3 linked regions of the Homo sapiens genome follow. The protein of the gene in region 1 purifies or fractionates together with the protein of each later gene. This does not show direct contact. Each region holds a gene or a part of one and is shown in the gene's direction. Other genes may lie near its edges.

Evidence for each region.
Region 2: the proteins of PINX1 (region 1) and DSTN purify together in Homo sapiens (co-immunoprecipitation; one large-scale study listed by IntAct). This does not show direct contact.
Region 3: the proteins of PINX1 (region 1) and ZNF346 purify together in Homo sapiens (co-immunoprecipitation; one large-scale study listed by IntAct). This does not show direct contact.

What each region holds. Positions count from the first base shown.
Region 1 is NC_000008.11:10,829,876-10,833,375, reverse strand, and holds part of PINX1 (PIN2/TERF1-interacting telomerase inhibitor 1), read left to right. Parts: intron 1-391; coding exon 392-484; intron 485-1,632; coding exon 1,633-1,711; intron 1,712-3,500. UniProt on the Homo sapiens protein: Microtubule-binding protein essential for faithful chromosome segregation. Mediates TRF1 and TERT accumulation in nucleolus and enhances TRF1 binding to telomeres. Inhibits telomerase activity. May inhibit cell proliferation and act as tumor suppressor.
Region 2 is NC_000020.11:17,576,496-17,580,227, forward strand, and holds part of DSTN (destrin), read left to right. Parts: intron 1-3,732. UniProt on the Homo sapiens protein: Actin-depolymerizing protein. Severs actin filaments (F-actin) and binds to actin monomers (G-actin). Acts in a pH-independent manner.
Region 3 is NC_000005.10:177,049,989-177,053,720, forward strand, and holds part of ZNF346 (zinc finger protein 346), read left to right. Parts: intron 1-714; coding exon of another isoform or gene 715-762; coding exon 763-948; intron 949-3,732.

The sequences.
Region 1 (3,500 bases):
AAAGACCAGTGGTTTTCCATTGTCTTTAAAATAAAATCCAAATTCCTCCCGTAGGTTATGTGAGATCTAGCCCCTCCGTCATCCTACTTCCTTCATTCCTTAATTTGCAGAAGCCACCCTGGGTGCCTCTGAGGTTTCCCAGTACACTGAGTTTTTTCCCACCTTCGGGTCTTTGCACTTGATCTTTCCTTACCTGGAAAATCTTACAGATGAGTGCTAATTGATGCAGAGGACTTAGAGTCCTCCCCCATGTTGCTTTGTGAAAGTATTTAATGGAGAGAATCATCAACTCAGAACACCTGCCGTAGGCATCTGTGAGTTTTGTAGCAGTGCTCTGCTTCTGAGTATCAGTGAGAGGAATGTTCTAACTCTCTGTGTTTAATCTCCACAGGGTTTAGGGGCTCAGGAGCAAGGAGCCACAGATCATATTAAAGTTCAAGTGAAAAATAACCACCTGGGACTCGGAGCTACCATCAATAATGAAGTGAGCAGCAGTGTGTGCCTCCTGGGTGTCTTTGCATAATTGGCTTCAGTCTTGTAAATCTGAAAGTTGATTGGTTCATCTGCTTCTGACCATTGGTGCAGCACTTCTTTTTATTCACGTTTCCTCTTGAACACTGACGCTTTGAATGCATGGCACTATAACTCAGAGTCAGTGGCCTACCGCGCTTTTTATTTTTAGTATCATTGTTCCCTTTTGGAAAGGATCTAAACTGAAAAGTTTTGTTTCTAAGTTTTTGCAGCCAACATAATCTGGTAGGGAATCTGGGAAATTACTTTAGGTAAATTGAATTACTTTGGTTAGTTCCGTATCTCTGAGTAGTGGATTGGCGGAGCTAAAATTTTTAGCCACTAAAGAAAGAGTTTATATAAAGTTGATTTCAAATGTAGTTGTTGAGGGATAGATAACACAGATATACTTATTTTCTTAGAAGAAGCATTGCCCAGTAAACCTATTTCATATTCCTTTACCTTAAGCATTCTTAAAAATTGCTAAGAATGTGAGTAAGGCAGATTCGTACACTGAAACCCTGCTTCCCACTGGTTTGGGAGATCTTCATTCTCTTATAAAAGCCAGGTTCATTTTTTTATAATAAACTTATTAGGTAACCACCTTACAAATGGGAACTCATCGATTCAGGGGACTTAAGGTTCTTCCTCCTCCCCTTCCTCAGAGTTTTGTAAAATTGGAGTTGATGCAAGTCATTAGAAGATTTTAATTCTACCAAGCAAAGAAGAGCATTTTTTTGTCCCGCATGGTTCTTGTCCTTTCAACTATGGAATTTCCCCTAGTGAGAAAAAAATAGTCATTTCATTATGTTTTACTTTAACATTTAGCACACAGGTTGCCTGTTGATTATTTACTATATATTGACTTGATCGATAAGTCATTCACATTTGAAATCAGGCCTTAAGCTTCCAGGAAGCCCCTTTTTAATATTGACCTGGATAAAGAGCATTTTAACTTTATATTATTTCTTGAATCCACTTAAATTTATCAAATAGTATTTTGATGGAACATTTAAAATTTCTTAATTAACCACTGGATTTCCTTGATTCCAAAATGTATCATCTCAGTCAGTGTAAGTAAACTACAGGCTTACCTCTCGTTCATTTCTTTGATATTTTCAGGACAACTGGATTGCCCATCAGGATGATTTTAACCAGCTTCTGGCCGAACTGAACACTTGCCATGGGCAGGAAACCACAGGTAGGGAAATCAGATGACATAAGTTCTCAATGCAAATATGTTTATCTACTTTTTGTTTTTTGCTTTTATTATTTTTAGTTGACACATAATTATACATATTTATTGAGTATAGTGTGATATGTCAATACCTGTGCACAATTTGTAATGTACACATGTGTTATGTTCATCAACGTAATTAGCATATATATCACTTCAGACATTTATTATTTGTGTTGGGAGCATTTAAAATCTGTTCTTCTAGCTATTTGAAAATATAAAATAAAATATTATTTATTATAGTCACCCTACAGTGCTATAGAACACTAGAGCTTTTTCCTCTTATGTAGTGGGACTTTTATATCCATTAGCCAATCTTTAGCTGTTCCTACATAGCTGTTTTCCTTACGCAGCTCTAATAACCACTATTCTGCTGTCTACTTTTATGAGCTCAACTCTTTTAGCTTTTCCATATGAACGAGAATATGTGATATTTATCTGTGCCTGGCTTATTTCACTTAATGTCCTCCAAACTCAACCATGTTGCCTCAAATGAAAAACTCTCATTCTTTCGTAAGGGTAAATAGTATTCCGTGGTGTGTATGCACCACATGTTTCCCAGTTCATGTGTTGGTGGACACTTAGGTTGATTCCATATCTTGGCTGTTGTGAATAGTGCTGCAGTGAACGTGGGTTTGCAGGTACCTCTGCAACATGCTGATTTCCTTTCCTTTGGGTAATGCCTGGGAGTGGATTGCTGGATCATATAGTAGTTCTATTTTTAACTTTTTGAGGAGCTGCCGTACTGTTTTCTGTAGTGGCTACATCAACAGTGCATAAGAGTTCCAATTTCTCCATATCCTAACCAGTAATTATCTTTTATAATTTTGATAATAGCCATCCTAATGGGTGTGAGATGATGTCTCATTGTGATTTGGATTTCCATTTCCCTAATGACTGATGTTAAGCATCTTTTCATCGCTTATTGGCCATTTTTATATCTTCTTTGAAGAAGTGTCTAAGTACTTTGCCCATTTTTTAATTGGATTTTGTTGTAATCTGCAAGCATTTTTATAAACATTCTTGTTTATGAACAGTCTATTCCTTGTGTGTCATGTGTGAATAATCAAAAGATATTTGGTAGATTGAAAGAATTTTGTGGAGTGAAATAATGAATTAGACTTGAGTTCAGCAAACATTTATTGAGCTGTGTGCTGGGTACTAGTTTAGGTGTGAGGATCTGCAGAGGTATAAGACACAGTCCTGCTTGGAGGTAGCTAGCAGAATATGCTGGTAATTACCTGGTAAAATCACAGCACACATCTAACCATAGGAAGGTTTATTGCAGTGACGTGTGTGGAAGTGAGCCCAACAGTGTGAAGGGAAAGGTGCTTTGTTGGTATTTTTTCTAACCAGATTGGACTTTTTGTTGGAATGTATAACTTGGACAGTTTTCCTTATCCATAGGATCATGATTTTGAAATAACCTAACAGTTCTGTGTGTGGTCCTAATATGAAGGGCAATAATTTATTAGCAGAAGAAAAAGATAAGGAAAATGTTTTCTGAAAATACTGAATGACTCATATTAGGAAATGCAGGATCTATGAAGTAGTAAAGTTCAAGGACACTATTCCTTACTAATTATACACAGAAAACATCTTGATATTTACGATCACAGTTGAACTCAGTAGAAACACAGATAAGAATGTAAGCTTGGCTGGGCACGGTGTAATACCAGCACTTTGGGAGGCTGAGGCGGGCGGATCACCTGAGGTCGGGAGTTTGAGACCAGCCTGACCAACATGGAGAAAC
Region 2 (3,732 bases), on another chromosome or scaffold:
ATCGCCCTCACATCATACGTAGATTTTTTAAAAGCAATTGATTTCAGTAAAAAATGCAATTAAAGTTTTAAAATTAACAAAGTAATCTCTAATTGAAGGTGTGAAAAGACTGAGAACGTCTGTTGCAGCACGGCATAGATGAGTGCTTGAAAGATAGAAACTTAAGTTCATTCTACACCTGGAAGGTCATTTGTCATTGTGTTTGTGCTTTTGGATCACATCAAAGGAAGATTGTTTACTCCTTTGAACATTTTTACATTACTTCATAGGTTGTTATTTCTGTTTGCCTTCTCACAGGAAAGCAAGGATGAATTTCCTACCCTTGTTTCTATCTTGGCTTGCTTTCAGAAAATAGCTTGTAAATGTAATTAGTGTTTATTTTAAAATGGTTTCACAACTTTTCTGTTGCTATTTTCATGTACAGGTGGAGCATCCCTAATCTAAAAATCCAAAATTCTCTAAAATCCCAAACTTTTTGAACACCAACATATGGAAAATTCTACATCTCACCTCATGCGACAAGTCAAAATGCAGACAAAACTTTCACACATAGAATTATTTAAAATATCATATAAAATAATTTTCAGGCTATGGGTATAAAGTGTATATGAAACACAAATGAATTTTGTGTTTGGACTTGGGTCCTATTCCCAAGCTATCTCATTATGTATATGCAAATATTCCAAAATTTGAAAATATCTGAAATCAAATGCTTGGTACCGGAAGGTACTTAACCTGTAGTAATAGAACTAACACTAAAGCACAGCACAGGCAAATACAGGTAAGGCTTCTCCAACTTGCCCTGGAGCAATCTTTGAAGTCAGTTGTTGAAGCTCAGGAGTTTTGAGGAATTCTCAAATCATTGTAAGAATCTGCAGCCTGACCAACATGGAGAAACCCCATCTCTACTAAAAATACAAAATTAGCCAGGCATGGTGGCAGGTGCATGTAGTCCCAGCTACTTGAGAGGTTGAGGCGGGAGAATTGCTTGAACCTGGGAGGCGGAGGTTGTGGTGAACCGAGATCACGCCACTGCACTCCAGCCTGGGCAACAAAGCAAGACCCTGTCTCAAAAAAAAAAAATCTTTAGAGGAATACTCTAGTTATAAGAATATTTCATCTTTAGGCCAGTGTTGTCAAATGGAAAGAAAATACAAGCTATGTATATACTTTTAACTTTTCTAGTAATATTTTAATATACTTTTAACTTTTCTAGTAATATTTTTAAAAATTGAGAAATTTTACATATAAATTGTTTGAAATCCAGTATATATTTTACACTGAAAGCACGTGTCAATTCAGGTGCTAAATTTTCATTGGAAATACTTGATCTGTATTTAGATATGATAAAATTTACATTTGAAAAAGTAGATTCATATACTCAAGTTGCTCCAGACCTACTTACAAGTTTTCCAGTAATGGATAAGAATAAATTTTTAGAATTTAAGTTAATTAAAATTAAATGAAAATACAGTTCCTCAGTCACACTAGCCACATTTAAAGGACTCGTTAAGTCACATGTGGCTAGTGGCCACTTTATTGGACCAACCTAAGACTTTGTGAGTTGGCCTACTTAATTTGTAATGGGAAGTTGGTGTGTGTACCAACTAAATTCTCTGCATTTCTGCACATGTCCAAGAAACGATGCTGAGATAGCATATGAATTTCTTTATAGGACTTAAGATGTTTTATGAAACTAGACTATTGAGCTCTTTTAAGATGGGGATCGTACATTCCAGTAGCAAGATACCACTCTCATAGTAGGCCCACATAGATGTTACTGAATGAACATGAATGAGTGAATGGGAGAGGGTATTCTTAATTATGACAAAGGACAGGTTCCCATGGAGGTGGAGTCCTTTAATTTTTATACCTTCTATTCCCACATACCTTTTTTAATGTAATGGAAATTGGGTTTTAAGTATTGAATTAATTGAATAGTACCTCCCCTTTGTATACTGCATGATAATTTACTTTGAGTCTTACAAGTAAAAATCCTTCAAGATAGTTAAGGCAGTTATTAGAGTAATACCTTTAAAGTGATTGTGGCATATTGAAAGTCCTCAATAAATGCCAGTTTCCTTTCTTTCCTTAAAAATGAAACCGTGGAATTTCATGCTCATTGAGGCATCCTGAACCATAGAAAAGCGCTCAAAAGCCTAACAAATGAAAGAGCAAGAAGTGGCCGGGCGTGGTGGCTCACGCCTGTTATCCCAGCACTTCGGGAGGCCAAGGTGGGTGGGTCGCTTGAGGTCGGGAGTTCGAAACCAGCCTGACCAATGTGCTGAAACCCCCTCCTCTGCTAAAAATACAAAATTAGCCGGGTGTGGTGGCTCATGCCTGTAATCCCAGCTACTTGGGAGGCTGAGGCAGGAGAATCACTTGGACTTGGGAGGTGCAGGTGGCAGTGAGCCAAGATCCCACCATTGCACTCCAGCCTGGACAACAAGAGCGAAATTCCATCTCAAAAAAAAAAAAAAAAAAAAGCAAGAAGTAATGCTGTCTTACATTAACTTATAAGTATTTACCTTATCTCATTCAACCCTTATAGCAGTTCATTGAGATAGATATTATTTGTGTTAAACTGTACTGCCACATTAAAAGCATGTGCTCAGTGTCTGGCTGCTGGGTTTTTTTAAATCTTGACTCTGCCACTTGCACTAACTGTATGACCTTTGGTAAGTTCCTGACACATTCTGTGCCTCAATTTCACCATTCTTCCAAGTGGGAATAATAATAGTACCTACCACCACAACAGTATGAATGATGCATGTAACTAGTTTAAAGCAGTGGCACAGGCCAGGTGTGGAGGCTCATGCCTGTAATCCTAGCACATTGGGAGGCCAAAGCAGGCAGATCGCTTGAGCTTACGAGTTCGAGACCGGCCTGAGCAACATGACAAAACCCAGTCTCTACATAAAATACCAAAAAAAAAAGGAAAGCTAGGTGTGGCAGCGCATGCCTGTGGTCCCAGCTACTTGGGAGGCTGAGGTGAGAGGATTGCTTGAGCCCAGGAGCTTCAGGCTGCAGTGAACCAAGGTTGCACCACTGCACCTCAGCCTGGACGACAGAGCAAGACCCTGATCCCCCCAAAAAAAGCAGTGGCAGGTAGTAAAGTGCTTATCAGTTTATCAGTGTTAGCTAAAATAAATGGTGGCAAGCTTAGATCTAATTAGGTAAATAGTCTTTTGTTATTACTTGCTATCCAAGTGGAAGAAGCCAGAATCATTTATTTAACTCATTAAAAAGGGATTCCTGCCTGACTAATCAAAAGGCAGTTTATCCTTCAAGGGCCAGCTCTAGGAAGACCTGCCTGACATGACACCTCCCTTTTGTCATCATGTCTCATACAGAATCACTCATTTCCTGGGCTGTCAATGCATGGAGAGCTTGCTGCTGGTGCAGCATTAATCATATATAGGATTCTTTCTTATATCTGTTATCTCTACCCAACTGGATATATCTTTAGAATAGTTCAAAGTTTTGTTCATCTTTATATCCTGTATTCATCTTTATATTCTGATGACACCAGTGTGTGCCTCAGTAGTTGTAGAGCAAATGAAAAGAGTTGGAGGAGTGCATTAGAATGTGTTTCAATAGTTTTATTCTTTCTTTAATATTATTTTACTTGGAATCATTGTATATAATCAACTTTTTAATTTGAATTTTCAAGTGACTTGATTCTTGATGTAAAAATATCATTTTACACTCTTAGTTATATTTTTCCTGGAG
Region 3 (3,732 bases), on another chromosome or scaffold:
ACCATGCCCAGCTAATTTTTGAATTTTTAGGAGAGACAGGGTTTCACCATGTTGGCCAGGATGGCCTCAATCTCTTGACCTCGTGATCCGCCTGCCTTGGCCTCCTGAAGTGCTAGGATTACAGATGTGAGCAAAACGCATAACTAAATGTTAATGGTCCTCTTTTCTCTCTACTCAGCCTATAATATGCAATGTAGCCTAAAAGGCATCCCTAGTATGGTTACCTTTTCTGAATGACCTTGTATGAGCTCCAGGAACTCAAGCCTCAATTTCTGTATCTGTGCATTTGTTCCCAGCTCTGCAACTGTATTACTTTAAGGATGAGAATAAAACTCCCAAACTTCGTGTCCCACTTGCTGTGAAGTTCTGGGAAGTACTGAGGTATCCCTGCAAGAGTGCAAGTGTGCATCTCTAGTCTATTGTAACTTGGCAGCCTGACAGGAGAAGCTCAGGGCCTCCTAAGAATATGAGAACCACCAGGATTTGTGGGCTTAAAGTAGTTAAAGCCGCTGAATGAAATAGCCAGTCTTTGGGCTCCCTCAAATCTTCCCAGGTTTCCCAATTAGAGAATGCATTCACCTGTGTGACTCACACAGGCAGTGCCACATCTGCAGTAGGATTAACTGGTGTCACAGCCCTTTCTATTCAGCATACTCAAAAGCCTGACACCTTCTGGGTTTTTTCATTGTTTCTGTTTGAACTCTCTCACTGCAGCTCTGTCAAAACGCCTTACAAATCCTTTCCTTGTGGCCTCCACCTTAGCCTTGCACCAGAATAGAGAGATGATAGACCCAGACAAGTTCTGCAGCCTCTGCCATGCAACTTTCAACGACCCTGTCATGGCTCAACAACATTATGTGGGCAAGAAACACAGAAAACAGGAGACCAAGCTCAAACTAATGGCACGCTATGGGCGGCTGGCGGACCCTGCTGTCACTGACTTTCCAGGTGAGGGGGCCTAGCTCACACCCAGAGCTGGACCAGGGTTTGGCCACTGGGGCTACCCGGACCAGCTGACGTTGTGCTTTTCCTCCTTAGGTCTTGTAAGTAGGGTTTGCGAACTCAGATGGCTACAGAAGCCAGATGAGAAATTAAAATGAGAGCCAGGAAGGGGATATGGTCAGCTGAAGAGTGAATGCCATTCCTACTCAGCTGTTACCATATCTTTCAGGTTTTCTTTTCTTTTTTTTTTTTTTTTTTTTTTGAGACAGAGTCTTGCTCTGTCACCCAGGCTGGAGTGCAGTGGCGCGATCTCGGCTTACTGCAAGCTCCACCTCCCAGGTTCATGCCATCCTTCTGCCTCAGCCTCCTGAGTAGCTGGGACTACAGGTGCCTGACACCATGCCCAGCTAATTTTTTTGTATTTTTAGTAGAGACGGGGTTTCACCATGTTAGCCAGGATGGTCTCGATCTCCTGACCTTGTGATCCGCCCACCTCGGCCTCCCAAAGTGCTAGAATTACAGGCGTGAGCCACCGCGCCCAGCCCTCTTTCAGGTTTTCAAAAGACTCTGGAAAGCCAGATTTATATAGAAATCCCTCTGTTTTTGTTTTTGCGTTTGTGTTTTTTGAGATGGAGTCTCCCTCTGTCACCCAGGCTGGAGTGCAGCGGCGCAATCTCAGCTCACTGCAGCCTCCACCTCCTGGGTTCAAGCGATTTTCCTGCCTCAGCCTCCCGAGTAGCTGGGGCTACAGGCACACACCACCACGCCCGGCTAATTTTTGTATTTTTAGTAGAGACAAGGTTTCACCATGTTGGGCAGGATGGTCTCGATTTCCTGACCTCGTGATCCGTCCGCCTCGGCCTCCCAAAGTGCTGAGATTACAGGCGTGAGCCACTGCACCCGGCCCCTCTGATTTTTAAATGTGTAACTAAATTAAAAAATTTTTAAGCCCAGCCAGGCATAGTGGCTTATGCTGTAATCCAAACACTTTGGGATGCCAAGGTAGGAGGATCACTTGAGCCTAAGAGTTCAAGACCAGCCTGGCCAACATGGTGAGATCCCATCTCTACTAAAAATTTTAAATATTAGCTGGGCATGTGGCGCATGTCTGTAGTCCCAGCACCTTGGGAAGGCTGAGGTGGGAGGATAACTTGAGCCCAGGAGGTCAAGGCTAAAGTGAGATATGATTGTGCCACTGTATTCCAACCTGAGTGAGAGCGAGAACATGTATCAAAAAAACAATTTTTTTTTTTTTTTGAGACAGTCTCACTCTGTCTCCCAGGCTGGAGTACAATGACACCATCTCACCTCACTGCAACGTCTGCCTCCTGTGTTCAAGCGATTCTTATGCCTCAGCCTCCTGAGTAGCTGGGATTACAGTTATGTGCCACCCCACATGGCTAATTTCCGGCTAATTTTTTTTGTATTTTTAGTAGAGACAAGAGTTTCACCGTGTTGGCCAGGTTGGTCTCGAACTCCTGACCTCAAGTGATCCACCCGCCATGACCTCCCAAAGTGGTGGGATTAGAGGCATTAGCCACCAAGCCCAGCCAAAAAAAAAAAAAACTATTTTTAAACCCTGTGTAAGTCAGACCTGTCTGCAAGCCAGATTTGGGCCAAGGACCCTTAGCGGATTAGATCAGAATCTCATGTTCTGATAGTTCTTACTTTGTACCTCCACAAAGGTGAACCCCTGAGAGAGAAAAGGTTGCTTCCTATCAGCAGAATTTAGACCCCTACATTAAAGTTTTGCCTCCCCCATTCTTTGGTTGTGGTTATGTTAAGGAGATACTGGTACTAAGAAAAACTACTAAAACTACACGTACACATGGTCCCCAACTTCCTATGGTTCAGCTTTATGATTTTTTTCAACTTTACGATGGTGTGAAAGCAATAGATGTTGAGTAGAAACTGTACTTCTCTTGCACTGCTAGGCAGCAATTGGTAATAAGTTTATCTAGATGTAACCCCATTGTAAGTCAAGGAACATCTGTAGAGTGAGAGAAAGCATGGAAATCTTCTGCTGACTTGCAGGATCCATTCACCACTCATTGGTAAAGGATGAATTCCTTGTTTTTACCTTTTTTTTTTTTAAGAGGGTCTCTTGCTGGATGCAGTGGCTCACGCCTATAATCCCAACACTTTGGGAGGCCAAGGCAGGTGGATCATAAGGTCAAGAGGGCGAGACCATCCTGGCCAATATGGTGAAACCCAGTCTCTACTGAAAATAGAAAAATTAGCTGGACGTGGTGACACACGCCTATAGTCCCAGCTACTTAGGAGGCTGAGGCAGGAGAATTGCTTGAACCCGGGAGGTGGAGGTTGCAGTGATCCAAGATCGCGCCACTGCACTCCAGCCTGGCAAAAGAGCAGCAAGACTTCATCTCAAAAAAAAAAAAAAAAAAAAACAGGGTCTCTGTATGTTGCCTAAGCTGGTCATGAGCTCTTGGGTTCAAGTCATCCTTCTACCTTGGCCGCCCAAAGGGCTGTGATTACAGGCATGAGCCGTTACACCCAGCCTGCTGTTATCAAGTATGCATTTAAGTCTTGCCCAAAGTATTTGTGTATTTTGGTACTTTTAATGCTGTTTTAAAATGAACATTCCTTAAAGTTGACTGGACCATTTCTAATACAATAAGGATAATTTTAAAAGACCTGGAAGAAATTCAGTTTTCATGAATATTATACTGTTAAGAGAGGGAAAAAAATATCGACCTTGATGAGTTTTTCTTACATGTGTTCTTGTTTGCTATGAATTCATTGGGAGAAAATATTTGCTGCCTTTTTACT